Regions from separate parts of the Homo sapiens genome. Here region 1 is linked to region 2. A link means that fine-mapping ties the variant in region 2 to the expression of a gene that starts in the linked region. Tissue or cell type: unexposed skin. Region 2 holds a variant in brackets; the other region holds the start of a gene. All regions are shown on one strand. Distances are from middle to middle.

What was found. PIP is the estimated chance that this variant, and not a neighbour inherited with it, causes the effect.
Region 1: it holds the start of CFAP251, and the variant in region 2 is fine-mapped to the expression of CFAP251 in unexposed skin (GTEx, PIP above 0.99).

Annotation. Positions count from the first base shown.
Region 1 is chr12:121,914,023-121,922,119 of GRCh38, reverse strand. It overlaps CFAP251 (cilia and flagella associated protein 251), which reads right to left and starts at 3,528. Exons shown (of 22, transcript NM_144668.6): 1 at 3,425-3,528; 2 at 437-834. The coding sequence starts at 814. PSMD9 (proteasome 26S subunit, non-ATPase 9) reads right to left here. Exons shown (of 6, transcript NM_002813.7): 5 at 6,176-6,264; 6 at 3,823-5,836. The coding sequence ends at 5,809. RefSeq lists a silencer at 3,250-3,399.
Region 2 is chr12:121,989,038-121,997,137 of GRCh38, reverse strand. All of the region lies in intron 19 of CFAP251 (cilia and flagella associated protein 251), which reads right to left. It overlaps LOC124903038 (a long non-coding RNA gene), which reads left to right. Exons shown (of 2, transcript XR_007063499.1): 2 at 165-665. Among named protein-coding and RNA genes, the nearest start is that of BCL7A, 29 kb to the left of the region's middle. RefSeq lists a silencer at 1,821-2,115 and enhancers at 4,872-4,971, 6,054-6,103. The variant G/A (reference allele first, on the strand shown) is at 3,759.

The DNA of each region.
Region 1 (8,097 bases), 75 kb after region 2:
AAAAAAAAAAAAAAGAATGGATTGTGGCCGGGCGTGGTGGCGTGTGCCTGTAATCCTAGCACTTTGGGAGGCCAAGGTGGGCAGATCATTTGAGATCATGCATTTGAGACCAGTCTGGCCAACATGGTAAGACCGAAACCCCATCTCTACTGAAAATATAAAACATTAGCTGGGTGTGGTGGTGGATGCCTGTAATCTTAGCTACTCAGGAGACTGAGGCAGGAGAATAGTTTGAACCCAGGAGGCGGAGGTTGCAGCAGGCTGAGATTGTGCCCCTGCACTCCAGCCTGGGCAACAGTGAGACTCTGTCTCAAAAAAAAAAAAAAAGGAATGGATTGTACCTTATTTGGTTTTGTGTTCCCATAGTCTGGCCTATACTAAGCATTCAACTAATGATTCTGAATGAATTGATGAATGAATTAAGATGACTACTTACTGGGAAAATTCCTGATGTGATTGACTGGGAATCAGTAATCTGTGTCTCCAAACGGATCATGGACGCTGTGACTTCTTGGGGCTCTACTGTGGTTTCTTCCTGTATTCCTGAAGCCTCCTTCTCTTGGACTTCTCCAGCCTTTTCCTCAGTTTCTTCCATGACAATCTTTTTGTCCTCCTTCCCCTCCTCCTCCCCTTCCTCCTCGCCCGTTTTCCTCTCCTCCTCCTGAGACTCTCTCCATGCTATTGTGTCATCTTTTGATTCCTGTTGTGGATCTTCTACTTCTTTATAATTTGGATTAGGTTCCTCCTCTTCTTTCATTTCTGTTTCTCCATTTTCTCCTGTTGCTTCTCGGGGAGCTTCTGCTGCATCTGACATTCTTCTCTGTAGAGTTTCCTCTAGAGAGATTTTGACCATAATAACCAGCTGGCCCTCAGCTTCCCATTTCCATCTCCTAGTGCACTAACCTACTGATGAAATGTGCATAAATGGCTCTGTTCCCTTTCCATAGGAATAAAAAGAATGTCATGTTTCTGACCAGGCACGGTGGCTCATGCCTGTAATCCCAGCACTATGGGAGGCCAATGCAGATGGATCACCTGAGGTCAGGAGTTTGAGACCAGCCTGGCCAACATGATGAAACCCCGTTTCTACTAAAAATACAAAAATTAGCTGGGTGTGGTGGCAGGCGCCTGTAATCCCAGCTACTTGGGAGGCTGAGGCAGGAGAATCGCTTGAACCTGGGAGGCAGAGGTTGCAGTGAGCCAAGATCATACCATTGCACTCCAGCCTGGGTAACAAGAGCAAAGTTCTGTCTCAAAAATAAAAACAAAAAAAGAATGTCATATTTCTGGCCAGGCACAGTGGCTCACGCCTGTAATCCCAACACTTTGGGAGGCTGAGGCGGGAGGATCAGTTGAGGTCAGGAGTTTGAGACCAGCCTGGCCAACATGGTGAAACCCCATCTCTACTAAAAATACAAAAAGTTGGCCGGGCGTGGTGGCTCACGCCTGTAATCCCAGCACTTTGGGAGGCTGACGCGGGTGGATCACGAGGTCAGGAGATCGAGACCATCCTGGCTAACACGGTGAAACCCCGTCTCTACTAAAAATACAAAAAATTAGCCGGGCTTGGCGGTGGGCGCCTGTAGTCCCAGCTACTCGGGAGGCTGAGGCAGGAGAATGGTGTGAACCCGGGAGGCGGAGCTTGCAGTGAGCCGAGATCGTGCCACTGCACTCCAGCCTGGGCAACACAGCGAGACTCCGTCTCAAAAAAAAAAAAAAAATACAAAAAGCCTGGTGTGGTGGTGGTGCCTGTAATCTGAGCTACTCAGAAGGCCGAGGCAGGAGAATAGCTTGAATCTGGGAGGCGGAGGTTGCAGCGAGCCAAGATCATGCCACTGCAGTCCAGCCTGGGCAACAGAGCGAGACCCTCTCTCAAAAAAAAAAAAAAAAAAAAAAAGTCACATTTGTGGGAAACCTTTTTTTTTTTTTTCTCTTGAGACAGAGTTTTGTTCTTGTTGCCCAGGCTGGAGTGCAGTGGCACGATCTTGGCTCACTGCAATTACTGCCTCCAGGGTTCAAGCTATTCTCCTGCCTCAGCCTCCCGAGCAGCTGGGATTACAGGCGTCTGCCACCACACCCAGCTAATTTTTGTATTTTTTCAATGGAGGCAGGGTTTCACCATTTTGGCCAGTCTGGTCTTAAACTCCTGACCTCAAGTGATCCGCCCGCCTTGGCTTCCCAAAGTGCTGGGATTACAGGCGTGAGCCATCACGCGCAGCTGGGAAATCTTAAAGTATATGTATTTGTGGCCCAGATCTTAAAAATACTGATCCAGGGCCTGTCAACTTTCTGGGAATAAACACCTTGTAGCCTTTTTACTCATTTAAAATATATTTATATTCCCACAGGCAGCAAAATGCATAACCCACATATTAGCAACAATTCTAGAAACAGGAATACGAGAAGAAGCAGGGTAGCCTAGTGGTTAAAAGCAAGGGCCTTGCTGTCAGCTTGTCCTAGCATTGAATCCCATTTCCACCACGTACTTGCTCTGTGACCTTGGGCAAGTCACTTTACCCCTCAGAGTCTGCATTTTCTCATGGGCAAAATGAAAAGAATAATCCTAAATTCTAGGGTTGTTGTAGAGAAGTGATAACATATATAAAATGCTCATCACAATTCTGGCACATACAGCTTGAAAAAATGGTAGCAGTTGTTATTATTTGAGAGAAAAGCAACCCTAATGTGCAAAGAAATGAACAGTTTGAAAGCCTTCTGGCATATTCTCCATTTATTCCTTACAACAAACAAGAGTTTGAACTAGGAAAACAATAAGGATGGATACTTTATCCCTAAAGAGTTGGACCCCGAACAAAAAAAATCCCTACATTTTCAGTGACATTAGAATAAGAGAACTCAACACTTTGAAAATAAAGTCCCAGAGAGTACAGAGTAGAAAAGGTATTTCTATTTCTTAATTTCTTTCTCAGCACTAAATGTATCAGCTCCTCAAATTCATCTCTGGTAAAAAAAAAATAATAATAATAATAATAAATAAATAATGAATGGATAAATGAGTTTGAGGCTCTGAGAGGTGAAGTGACTTATTCAAGATGACACCGCTAGTAAGAACGAGATTTCTCTGGCACTTAGTTTCTCCAGCTGAAAAATCACTGCTCTGAATCAAGTCTAGGGCTCTCACCACCGAGCCTCTTTTGACTGAGCCCAACTTCGCCGGCGCGTCTGGACAGCCGGGTTCGAGCCGCAGGGGTTTGGGGCAGGGGTGCCAGGTGCGTGGCTCTGCGAGGGGATTAAAGCCCAGGTGCGGCCTCTGCCTCCAACTCAGGTCTCCCTGGGGCCGCCCCAGGCCCCACAAGGGCCAGGTCGGGTGAGCGCCCCCCAAGGGGCACCAGACCCCGCCAGGTCGGGGGCCCCCTCGCCAGGGCCGCGTGGCCTCCGCCCCGGACTTACAGAGAGCACCCACCCCGGTCTTCAAAAGGCCAGAGTCGTCCCGCCGCCTGGACCCCTCAGCCACCTCCCGGGCCTCCTTCCAGCGGCCGCCACCTTCTCCACCAGCTCCCTAGTTCTGGTTGCCACCCAAGCTCCGTCCCCATGGCAACCGCCACCGCCGGAAGCGACAGGCCCTAAAGCGACAGGGCAGGGCGGTGGTCACGTGCCAGGAAACGGTGACGAGCGTGCCCGACGTGCCTCCTGCCGGTCGCTGGCGGCATAGACTTTCCTCGCTTTTCTGTCCTTCCTCCGCTCGCACGATCCCACCTTTTCACATGGTCCCGTCCCCTAAGAAGCTGCAGCGGCCAATACTGCCAATTTTTACTTTCCGCAACCTTGGCAAGATGGGGTGGAGAAGTATGAACTCGGATACAATGCTCTTTTCCAAAAGCAAACTGAATTTCCAGGTCTCATGGATGCAGCACACAACCGTCCTGCCTGCCTCCTCACCGGGCACCGCGTGTTGCAGACAATTCCAGCTGGCTGGGGGCAGATATGACACAGGGTGCACCAGCTTGCGGTTCTCAGCACAAAGCGTTTCCGCAAAACCGGTCTGGCTATATCTATTAGGATCATTCCACGTCAAAGTGGCTCTCCACTAACATCTCATGGAAGACGGCAACAGGTGGCCACACGGGTTTCCACTGGGACCCCTGCAGGAAACCAGCCAGAGCCACTGAGGCAGAAGGCTCTCTGCTGCTGTCATTTTAGGAGAATGTGAATAATTCTCCCCGCCCACACTGCCATGCCCCAGTGATGGTAAATTGATTAATATGCATACATCTTAAAATAAAAAAGAAAGGATAAACTGGGCAAGCTGTGTTTATTATAGTCTGAGACTTTATAAAAGAGACTGGAAAATACGTGGAATTAGAACATGCAATTTAAACAGCAAACATTGGTAAACACAGCATGTCTGTGGCTACCAGAGGGGAATACGTATGGCTGTCAGGTCAAATAGAGTTTGAGGGAATTCGCCCAATAGGAAGGCTTTGGAATTGAGTGTGAGAACCTGTGGCTGGAAGCACACAGCAATACCAATCCCATCAAGGCAAGCTGGTATCTGTATCCAACCACAGCAAAACCAGTCCCAAGGAACACAGGGCTTGCCTGGCAGAACTGCCAAAACAGAAAGCGGTGTGCAAGAACTGGGGAAATGAACACTGATACCATGGAGAGGAAAAAATAATTCAAAGTATTGGCAGGAATCCCTGAGAACCATTTTACCATCTTAAAAGAGACAAAAAATAAAAGGGAGGAAGAATAAGCATTTTCAAGAGGTCTGATCTACTCGTTCCTATCCATACCTCAGCGGTTTACAAAATAGCGCTGATCTCAGGGCATAGCCAGGAGGTTCAATTATAAAAAGTCAAACTAGCAGTGGGCTGGGCGCAGTGGCTCACGCCTGTGATCCCAGCACTTTAGGAGGCCAAGGCAGGAGGACTGCTTGAGCCCAGGAGTTCGAGACCAACCTGGTCAACACAGGGAGACCCTGTCTCTACAAAAAATAAATTAGCTATGCATGGTGGTGCACGCCTGTGGTCCCAGATACTTGGGCGGCTGAGGCAGTGCCCACAGCGTCAAGGCTTCAGTGAACCTTGATCACGACACTGCACTCCAGCCTGGGTGACAAAGCAAGACCTTGTCTCCAGAAAACAAAAACAAAAACACACAAAAACGGAGGGGTTCTTACTAGCGAAGTGAAAGGAGCTTGCTGCCCTCTGGTGGGTTCCTAAAGAGGAAGCTGACAGGACACCACGCTGGGCCACCTGGGAAGCCTCCAGGCTTTCCCTGTTCTCCAAAGGGAGCTACTATGGCCCTGACAGCCCAGCTGCTGAGGAAGCACAGTACTTAACCATTTCCGTATCCACAGCAGCAAGGCCTCAGTGCAAAGAAATATGTTGGTCAAAGCCTGACTTTGCAATTGCTAGCCTGTTTTGCCCAACTTTCTATGAAGCTCTTCTGACCCCATCTGAGCTTTGGTTTGGGAGGGTCATAAGAAATTCAGCTGGGGTGACAACAGGGTCATATCAGCACTGTAAAACTCTTTATTAAAAATAATAATAATAATCACACCAGTACCTGCCAGAATAACTTCCGCCCACTTGCCCACAATCCAGGGAATTCCTATTTAGGGCCGTGGCCTAATTTGTGAAAGAGGCCAAGCCTAAGTTTTTAAGAATGCCTTAATCCAGGGAGATTACACTGGTGGGCCACAGTACTGCCACCACACAGAAGTTCAGGTTACAAGCCTCTTCCAGATCCTTATGCTTCAGGGAGAGAAGACAAGTTGGAAATCCCTAGACCCAAGTCCAGGGCAAGGGAAGATGCTTTCCTGTTACTGTTCCCCAGGGACAATCATCTTTGCAGAGGAATAATGTTGCAGCTGGAAGAAAGAAGAAAAGGAATGGCGTAAGTTTGGAGGCTCCCTTCAGGAAGGTCAGAGGCTGAGCCCTTCTGACCTTTTCACCAATGTTCTTTCATTCTTTTAAAGCAAATGCCTAGTGCATGAATGAACTGGAGAGACTCCCAGGAGAGACTCTGGGGCTCCCTCTGCTTCTAGAGCTGTAGTCTCGTTCCTACCACGAGGATTTATCTGCAGTTTCCATGCAAACTGGGGATTCCCATTATTCCCCAATGTCTCCCCAGCCTTCCCCTCCAGCTTCATGTTTAACAAACACTCAAATGATGCCCCAGTGAGAATGAACAGAAACAGATACTTTACCCCAGCAGTCCTTTTCCTGCCCAGCGTGTTGGAACAAGTCTAAGCTGGTGTTTTTCCCCCCTGCGGATCACTGTCACATTCAGGGGCTTCTGAAAAGAAAATAAGCTCATTTCGTGTTCAGCCTCGTTAGTACTCAGAGATGCAGGCTAAAATGCTGAGATCCCATTTTTTGCCTATCAAATTGGTAAAGATTTACATTTGCAGCATAATCCTGTGGTTGGCGAGAGGGTGGGGAACGTGGCACTGCACTCTCAGGGCAGCCAGGGTGCTGACCTCAGTACCATCTTCCTCAAAAAACACGTGTCCCACCACCAACGATCTTTAAAAGGTACATCCAAGGTACATAGTACACAATTGCAAGATGACATACAAATTACAAGACATACAAATGCCTGTAATCCCAGCACTCTACAAAAAGTATAAAAATTAGCGAGACATACAAATGAAATGTTCATTCCAGGACTGTGTAGAAATTCAAAAACTGAAAACACCAGAAATGTCCATCAATAGGTATTGTTCAAATACAGTACAGAGAATGAAGGGTTTTAGTCAAAACAAACCAAAACCCCACCAAAGTATGAACCTATTTGATAATATTTTCTTTCTTTTTTTTTTTTTTTGAGACACAGTCTCACTCTGTCACCCAGGCTGGAGTGCAGTGGCACAATCTTGGCTCACTGCAACCTCTGCTTCCCAGGTTCTAGCAATTCTCATGCCCCAGCCTCCTGAGTAGCTGGGACTACAGGTGCCCGCCACCACACCCGCCTAATTTTAGTATTTTTAGTAGAGACAGGGTTTCGCCATGTTGGCCAGGCTGGTCTCAGAACTCCTGATCTCAGGTGATCCACCCACCTCAGCCTCCCAAAGTGCTGGGATTACAGGTGTGAGCCACCGTGCCCGGCCGATAATATTTTCTAAAAGGACACCTGTGTTGCTCTAGTGTGCGAAGTTTTCTGGAAGAACATGGAAAAACTTGTTAAGAGTGGTTACTTCCAGAGAGGACTAGTCCTTTGGAAAAAGAAGATGTTTACTTTTATATATTTCCATATCATTAATTTTTTAACCATGCGTATGTATTGCTTTATTTTTCTGAGACAGAGTCTTGCTCTGTTGCCCAGGCTGGAGTGTAGTGGTGCAATCTCAGCTCACCGCAACCTCAGCCTCCTAGGTTCAAGCAATTCTCGTGCCTCAGCCTCCTGAGTAGCTGGGACTACAGGCATGCAGCACCATGCTCAGCTAATGTTTCTGTATATTTAGTAGAGACAGGGTTTCACCATACTGGCCAGCCTGGTCTCAAACTCCTGGGCTCAAGTGATCTGCCCACCTCAGCATCCCAAAGTGCTGGGATTTTGGGCATGTGCCACCACACCTGGCATGTATGTATTACTTTCTTTTTTTTGAGATGGGTTCTCTGTCGCGCAGGCTGGAGTACAGTGGCACAATCTCGGCTCACTGCAACCTCCGCCTCCCCGGTTCAAGCAATTCTCCTGCCTCAGCCTCCTGAGCAACTGGGATTACAGGCACGTGCCACCATGCCCAGATAATTTTTGTATTTTTAATAGAGATGGGGTTTCGCCATGTTGGCCAGGCTGGTCTTGAACTCCTGATCTCAGGTGATCCACCCACCTCAGCCTCCCAAAGTGCTGGGATTACAGGCATGAGCCACCACACCCAGCCTGTATATAGTACTTTAATTTAAAAAATTAAAATTAAAGCAGGGGGAGTACATACCAAAAAAATTACAAATTAAAATACGATATCCAGGCACGGTGGCTCACGCCAGTAATCCCAGCACTTTGGGAGGCAGGAAGATCACTTGAGCCCAGGAGTTGAAGACCAGGCTGGGCATGGTGAAACCCTGACTCTACAAAAAGTATAAAAATTAGCGAGGCATGGTGGTGTGCACCTATAGTCCCAGCTAC
Region 2 (8,100 bases):
CTCTATGTGGTTCATCACATGCGCGTGGATCCCTAACACACATGCTTCCTTTTGCTTTAAAGACGCCTTTAAAAGGAGATCATCTTAAACCCAGTCACTTGTTGCTCTCGAGTTGTCACCCGCAGGTTACAGATACTGGCTCATGGCATTTCATTCCCTTTCAGACTTCAGTTGCTTTGATTCATGCATCTGGATGAAGCAAAAAGAAAATGTGACAACTTGTCACTGCAAGAACTTAAAAACACCCTCCAGTGGGGCTGCACCAGGCCACCTCACTTTAGAGTGTGCACAGCTTCCCATCAGAGATAAAAGCTGTGACTCCAGGCTCCTAAATACCTTTTTGATAAGGGCTTTCCTTTTGGCCACCAGCAGATGATCGGGTGATGGTGTTACTACTGCCAACTCCTACAGAGCCCAAGCCCATGAGATCTTTTAGACGTTCATTCTTTGCAGCTTAAAAAAATAATAATTTAAAAAATTTTCCCCTTCTCATTTGGAAAGTTTGTGTATTTTCTAATTTTTCTCGAATGAGAAAAGGGTGCTGACATGCCTAGGTTTAAGTGGAAATGCGGGGCCAGTTAACACAGGACTCCTCACAGGACGCCTTATGTCACTGGCAAAACACGAGGAAGAGAGAAATATAATAAATAAAGAAACAAACAAAACTGTTCCTCACTGCCGTCAGCCTCTCTCTGTGCAGTATTTTTGTACCGTGCATGTAGCAGTCAGCTGAAATGCAGAAACCCCAATTATACCAGTGAAAGGGCTAGGAATTAGTAACTTATTTTAGCATTTACATTTTAACCTAGGATGTTTCCCAATAAACTGTGGGGTTTGGAATTTTACAAAGAAAGAATAAGAGCAACAGAGAAGTGGGAACCAATTTGCTTCCTCTCCTCCCTGCTCCTGCCAAAGAACAGGCATTCTACTTTGGTCTGTGGGAATGAACCAGGAATTTAATCTCTATTTGTACACATTACTTATCAATCGGTAACCAATTTCTCCATGTCCCACTTAAAAAATGTGGAACAAAAATTCAGAGGACACCAGTTTGCAGCACTGCCAAGCTACCAACCTATCTCAAGTACCCTTCACCCTCACATCTTGGTCTGGCCTCAAGTATCAAGAAAAAAATAAAAATCTCTTGTAATCCAACCATCCAATCACAATTTCGGTGAGATTTGGGGCACTTCCTTCCTATTTTTTCTATGCATATAAAATACACATGCATATTTTTTACAAAACTGGTATCATATGTATAATTTTACATCCTGCTTTTTTCCTTTAACGCTGTATCTAAGTAATCACCTAGTAGTTTCAGAGATGCCACATATTCTCAATGCAACATTCCAGGTCAGGCATGGTGGCTCATGCCTATAATCCCAGCACTTTGGGAGGCCAGGGTGGGAGGATGGCTTGAGCTCAGGAGTTTGAGACCAGCCTGGGCAACATAATGAGACCTCATCTCCACTAAAATCTAAAAACAGGTGTGGTGGCAGTCCTAGCTACTGGGGGGCTCATGCAGGAGGATGGCTTGAGCCCAGAAAGCCAAGGCTGCAGTGAGCCCTGATTGTGCCACTGCACTCCAGCTTGGGCCAGAGTGAGAACCTGTCTCAAAAAAAAAAGGCAAGATTCCAGGAATGTTGAAATAACATTATTGGTTACAGATACAAATTAACTGTAATTGATACATAATTGATATTATAAAAGTAGCTGTAAATGGTAACACTGTTTCATATACAGCATTTACTGAGTTTATACTATGTACAATTGCTTGTTAAATCATGTATAATTTTATGTAGGAAAAAACACTATCCAGTAGCAATTATTTGCATATTGCACTATATAATTTTGACAGTATTACTACATAGGAATGCTACTATTTACCATGAGGCAGTAGAGGTTGGGGCTAAAAGAGCAATCTTTGATGATAGACCTAGGTTCAAACTCTGGCTCTGCCATTTTCTGTCTATATGACCTTGAGTGAGTTACTCACATTCCTTCTCCTCAGTTTCCTCATCTTGAAAAAGCAGGGAATACAGTAATACGTATGCATTGGGCTTTTCTGAAGCTTATTGAGACTATGTACGTAAAGTGCTTAACATAATGCCTAACACATAGCAAGCATTCAACAGACAGTAATTATTCTTGTGATTATTATTTTTTTTTTAATTTATTTTTTTATTGATAATTCTTGGGTGTTTCTCACAGAGGGGGATTTGGCAGGGTCATGGGACAATAGTGGAGGGAAGGTCAGCAGATAAACAAGTGAACAAAGGTCTCTGGTTTTCCTAGGCAGAGGACCCTGCGGCCTTCCGCAGTGTTTGTGTCCCTGATTACTTGAGATTAGGGATTGGTGATGACTCTTAACGAGCATGCTGCCTTCAAGCATCTGTTTAACAAAGCACATCTTGCACCGCCCTTAATCCATTTAACCCTGAGTGGACACAGCACATGTTTCAGAGAGCACAGGGTTGGGGGTAAGGTCACAGATCAACAGGATCCCAAGGCAGAGGAATTTTTCTTAGTGCAGAACAAAATGAAAAGTCTCCCATGTCTACTTCTTTCTACACAGACACGGCAACCATCCGATTTCTCAATCTTTTCCCCACCTTTCCCGCCTTTCTATTCCACAAAGCCGCCATTGTCATCCTGGCCCGTTCTCAATGAGCTGTTGGGCACACGTCCCAGACGGGGTGGTGGCCGGGCAGAGGGGCTCCTCACTTCCCAGTAGGGGCGGCCGGGCAGAGGCGCCCCTCACCTCCCGGACGGGGCGGCTGGCCGGGCAGGGGGGCTGACCCCCCCCACCTCCCTCCCGGACGGGGCGGCTGGCCGAGCGGGGGGGCTGACCCCCCCACCTCCCTCCCGGACGGGGCGGCTGGCCGGGCAGAGGGGCTCCTCACTTCCCAGTAGGGGCGGCCGGGCAGAGGCGCCCCTCACCTCCCGGACGGGGCGGCTGGCCGGGCGGGGGGGCTGACCCCCCCCACCTCCCTCCCGGACGGGGCGGCTGGCCGGGCAGAGGGGCTCCTCACTTCCCAGTAGGGGCCGCCGGGCAGAGGCGCCCCTCACCTCCCGGATGGGGCGGCTGGCCAGGCGGGGGGGCTGACCCCCCCCCCACCTCCCTCCCGGACGGGGCGGCTGGCCGGGCGGGGGGCTGACCCCCCCACCTCCCTCCCGGACGGGGTGCTGGCCGGGCAGAGGGGCTCCTCACTTCCCAGTAGGGGCGGCCGGGCAGAGGCGCCCCTCACCTCCCGGACGGGGCGGCTGGCCGGGCGGGGGGGCTGACCCCCCCCACCTCCCTCCCGGACGGGGCGGCTGGCCGGGCGGGGGGCTGACCCCCCCACCTCCCTCCCGGACGGGGTGCTGGCCGGGCAGAGGGGCTCCTCACTTCTCAGACGGGGTGGTTGCCAGGCAGAGGGTCTCCTCACTTCTCAGACGGGGCGGCCGGGCAGAGACGCTCCTCACCTCCCAGACGGGGTCTCGGCCGGGCAGAGGCACTCCTCACATCCCAGATGGGGCGGCGGGGCAGAGGCGCTCCCCACATCTCAGACGATGGGCGGCCGGGCAGAGACGCTCCTCACTTCCTAGATGTGATGGCGGCTGGGAAGAGGCGCTCCTCACTTCCTAGATGGGATGGCGGCCGGGTGGAGACGCTCCTCACTTTCCAGACTGGGCAGCCAGGCAGAGGGGCTCCTCACATCCCCGACGATGGGCGGCCAGGCAGAGACACTCCTCACTTCCCAGACGGGGTGGCGGCC[G/A]GGCAGAGGCTGCAATCTCGGCACTTTGGGAGGCCAAGGCAGGCGGCTGGGAGGTGTAGGTTGTAGTGAGCCGAGATCACGCCACTGCACTCCAGCCTGGGCACCATTGAGCACTGAGTGAACGAGACTCCGTCTGCAATCCCGGCACCTCGGGAGGCCGAGGTTGGCGGATCACTCGCGGTTAGGGGCTGGAGACCGGCCCGGCCAACACAGCGAAACCCGGTCTCCACCAAAACCAGTCAGGCGTGGCGGCGCGTGCCTGCAATCGCAGGCACTCGGCAGGCTGAGGCAGGAGAATCAGGCAGGGAGGTTGCAGTGAGCCGAGATGGCAGCAGTACAGTCCAGCTTCGGCTCCGCATGAGAGGGAGACCGTGGGGAGAGGGAGAGGGAGAGGGAGACGGAGAGGGAGAGGGAGTGGGAGAGGGAGAGGGAGAGCTCTTGTGATTATATTTTTCTATGCACTTGCTAATTACAATACATGTAATCATAACATAAGATAAATTATAATTTGGCTGGGTGGGGTGGCTTACGCCTGTAATCCCAGCACTTTAGGAGGCTGGAGTGGGTAGATCGTTTTAGGAGCTTGAGACAGCCTGGGCTGTGAAATCCTGTCTCTACAAAAAAGACAACAAATTAGCTTGGCGTGGTGGCGCATGTGCCTGTAGTCCCAGCTACTTGGGAGGCTGAGATGGGAGGATCACCTGAGCCCGGGAGGTGGAGGCTGCACTGAGCCGTGATTGTGCCACTGCACTCCAGCCTGGGCAACAGGAGTGAGGAGTAAGACCCTGTCTGAAAAAGAAAAAAAAAAGAAATAATATATATAAATATATATAAATTACCAATGTAATATATGATTTAACTCAGTTCAGAACAGGAGACTAAGACGACAAAAGGAATTCATAAGGGCCTGAGTTACTCATACCCAGAGAGTTCCAAAGAGCTCAGCAAACATTCACAGCACAAACCACTCAGCATGTGATTCACCTCTTACTCTCTCTTCCCGTATGACTGATCAAGAATCACTACTCAACAAGCACGGAGTTGGCAGCTTCGGCATCACTGACATTTCCTTCCTGAGCCGACTTCGCAAGTGTTCGTTGAAAAGGCAGGTTCTGCTACTTGTCTGAACAAAGTTCATGCTTGGGAGAGGAACCTCGGAGCTGGAAATAGAACGCAGAGCTTGTTCTGAACGCCCCCGTGTGAAGATGGCTTGAGAGAAGCAGGAGTCCTAGCTGAGCGGCCCAGACGCACTGGTGGTTGTCAGTCAGCCTGGCCTTTGATTGGCATTCTCACGCCTGCTAAGGCGGGGCTTTATTCCATTCACCTGGAGAGCTTAAACAGTTCTGAGGCCCAGATCCTATTCCCTGAGAACCTGATTTTTTTTTTTAGATGATAGTCTCACTCTGTCGCCCAGGCAGGAGTCCAGTGGCGTGATCTCGGATCACAGCAACCTCCACCTCCTGAGTCCAACCAATTCTCCTGCCTCAGCCTCCCAAGTAGCTGGGACTACAGGCGCGCGCCACCACAGCTGGCTAATTTTTGTATTTTTAGTAGCAACAGGGTTCCTACTGTTGGCCAGGCTGGTCTCAAACTCTTGACTTCAAGTGATCTGCCTGCCTCGGCCTCCCAAATTGCTGGGATTACAGGAATGAGCCACCACAACCAGCTGAGATCCTGATTTAATTGGTCTGGGGACCAAATTTTTGGAAGCTTCTCATTCGAATGATTTGAATGCGTAGCCAAGCTTGAGAAACATGGCTGGAAGGCAAAGGCTCGCTGACATGTCAGGCTTCACAATGACCGGGAGGTCTTGTTCAAACAGACTGCTGGTCCCACCTGGGGGGTTTCTGAGTCTGGGATAGGGTCTGACCATTTGCATTTCTTGTAAGTCCCTAGGTCACGTGAAGTCAATCCTGTTGGTCTGGGGACCACACTTTGAATACTGCTGCTCTTAGACCACAGGGGTTCACGGAGGTGATACTGGTGCCAAAATGAATCAGCCCCAAGCTTGTGACTTTCAGTAGAGAGTAATAATGGGTGGCAGCTGCGGTGCACGCTCTAATTCTTTGGGCTCACATCTGTTTTCCCCATTAAGCTGTAGCCAGAGCTTTCATCTCTATTTCCCCGGCAGCTTAGTTCAGAGCCTGGCACATTATAGAGGCTCAGAGAAATGTTTACTGAATGGATAGATAGATGGATGAATGGATGAATGAATGAATGATGAAGTAAATAATGTGGACACAAGTGAGGCCACAAAAAGAATTCTCTTGAAACTCACAAGAAGCTTAGAATAATCATTTAGTGCCCTAGTTAATTTTACTCGATTTACTAGTAGTTACTGAGCATTTGGTTTAGTGCAAAGCCAATGAAATACAAGTCTCTCAATTATTACTAGAACAGTTCTGCATTCTGGTTTTCAATCTTAGTCACTGGGGTCAGCAAATATTTATTCAGTGTCTATTAAGGTCTGGGCCATGTGAAGAGATGCTCAAGAGACGATATACACAAGGAAAGCGAACTAACAGGCTCCATCGCCAAGGTCCTCAGCCCTGGCTGCCTGGGGCTTTAAAAACTGTCCATGCTTAGACTCCACCCCTAGGTTCTGTTGCACAAGGCTGGGGCCCAGGTGTAAAAATCAGGTGTAAAAATACTGATGTATTTTTTTAAGTGCCCTCAACTGATTTTAAAAGGTTGGCTACCGTGGCTCTAGAAGATTCAGTGCCAAGATGCAGGAGAACATCATCAAAGGTTGGAGGAGCTCTCAGCCAGGTGGGCTTCGGGAAGGCTTCCTGGAAGAGGTGGGCCTACTGCAGAGCCATGAAGGGTTTGGCCAGTAGGAGGTCAGAGGAAGACACTGTATGCTGGGAAACAAGCATGAGGAGGAGGGTGCAGAGGAGGTGCCCACCCCGAGCCCATGCACCCAATTCTAGACCACACTCTGGGTACCTGAACCCGAGGCTTCTCTCCCCTACATAACCTAAGCCCACTTCCGGGGCCCATGGGGATCTCACCCTCCTGAGGCCAACCTGTGCCCCTGGTGTTGCCCACCCATAGGCCTGAAGGGTGCCCCGGGGCTGCTGTTTGGAGAGTATAGAGAAGGGTCCACCTCCTGAATGCCATGCACACAGTGGCCAGGGATGGGGTCAGAGCTGGGAGGACACATGGGGCAGGCCCAGCTTGGCTTGGCCCTGCATGCTGCCCATTCGGGTGTGAACTTTGAATCAGCTCATGTTGAAGGTTGAACTGTCAAGGGGGAATATTTATTTATCAGCTTGTTGCTTGATTGGTAACTTTTAAACATTTAGACATACAGCATCTGGGCCTCTGTTGCCCCGACTGCTCCAGGCCCCAAGACATGAGGGTGGCCTCTTGGTGGTGGGCTGGAGTCCCCTCACCCGAGAGCATCTTATTTCTGCCTCTGTCATTGATGACGCAGGCCTTTGGGTCTGTGATCCCTGCTGTCAGCCTCAGGAAGCCATTGATGTCCTTAGAATTATGTTCTATAATTAAGTTTTACAACCTCCCTATTAAATGGAGAGGAACACGATATATTTGAACTGGGGCCATTCCTTGTTTTTATAAGCAGGCTCCTGGTGGGGGCAGGTTTGCTTTTCTAATGGTTTCATGGACCAGTAGGACTGGGAGCACTCACCCTCTTCCCCACGCCCTCTTCCCAACGCACAATACCCTCTAGAACATTCTCAACTAATGGGGCACAGTGTCTTGTTCCCACTCATCATCTTCACTCATACCCTCCCCTGGTCACCCCCTGCATCTCCTCGCTGACCCGGGGCAGGGAGTAGTGGGCTGAGGAGGGGGCGTAAGGGCTGGGCAGCGTCACTGCATGGCCACATCTGGAGACCCCTGTGAGCGCCCCCTCTGCGATTCATGCAACACTGTGACCCCAACTGCTCCATACCTCCCTCCAGGAACTAGATCTGGATGGCGACTGCCTCTTTTTCCAGGAGTGGGGCATGCATGCACAGTTCTGCCCTCTGGACGCAGTCTCAGGTGACAGCAGCCAAGGCCTGGCCTGGTGCTCTTGCCCACTGTCTTCTACTCCATGTGAACAACACCCATTCACAGGGCCCTTTAGAGTGACTGTCACCCTGCCCTGCATCAGAGCCCAGGTCTCAAACACCTCCAGGGACTCTTCCCTTCCCAGTGAATGTTTTCAAAGGTCTGAAAGAGACAGTCCTAGCTGAATGACAAGTCTTGCACCTTGTACCAAACCCACAATCAAGGATTTGCTAATTCTGTGTCCACAGCTCTCTAAAATCCTGATCCTGCCTCATGCACCCTAAAGCCCCAGATGGTTCCTAGCTCAAGTGAAGAAGTGATG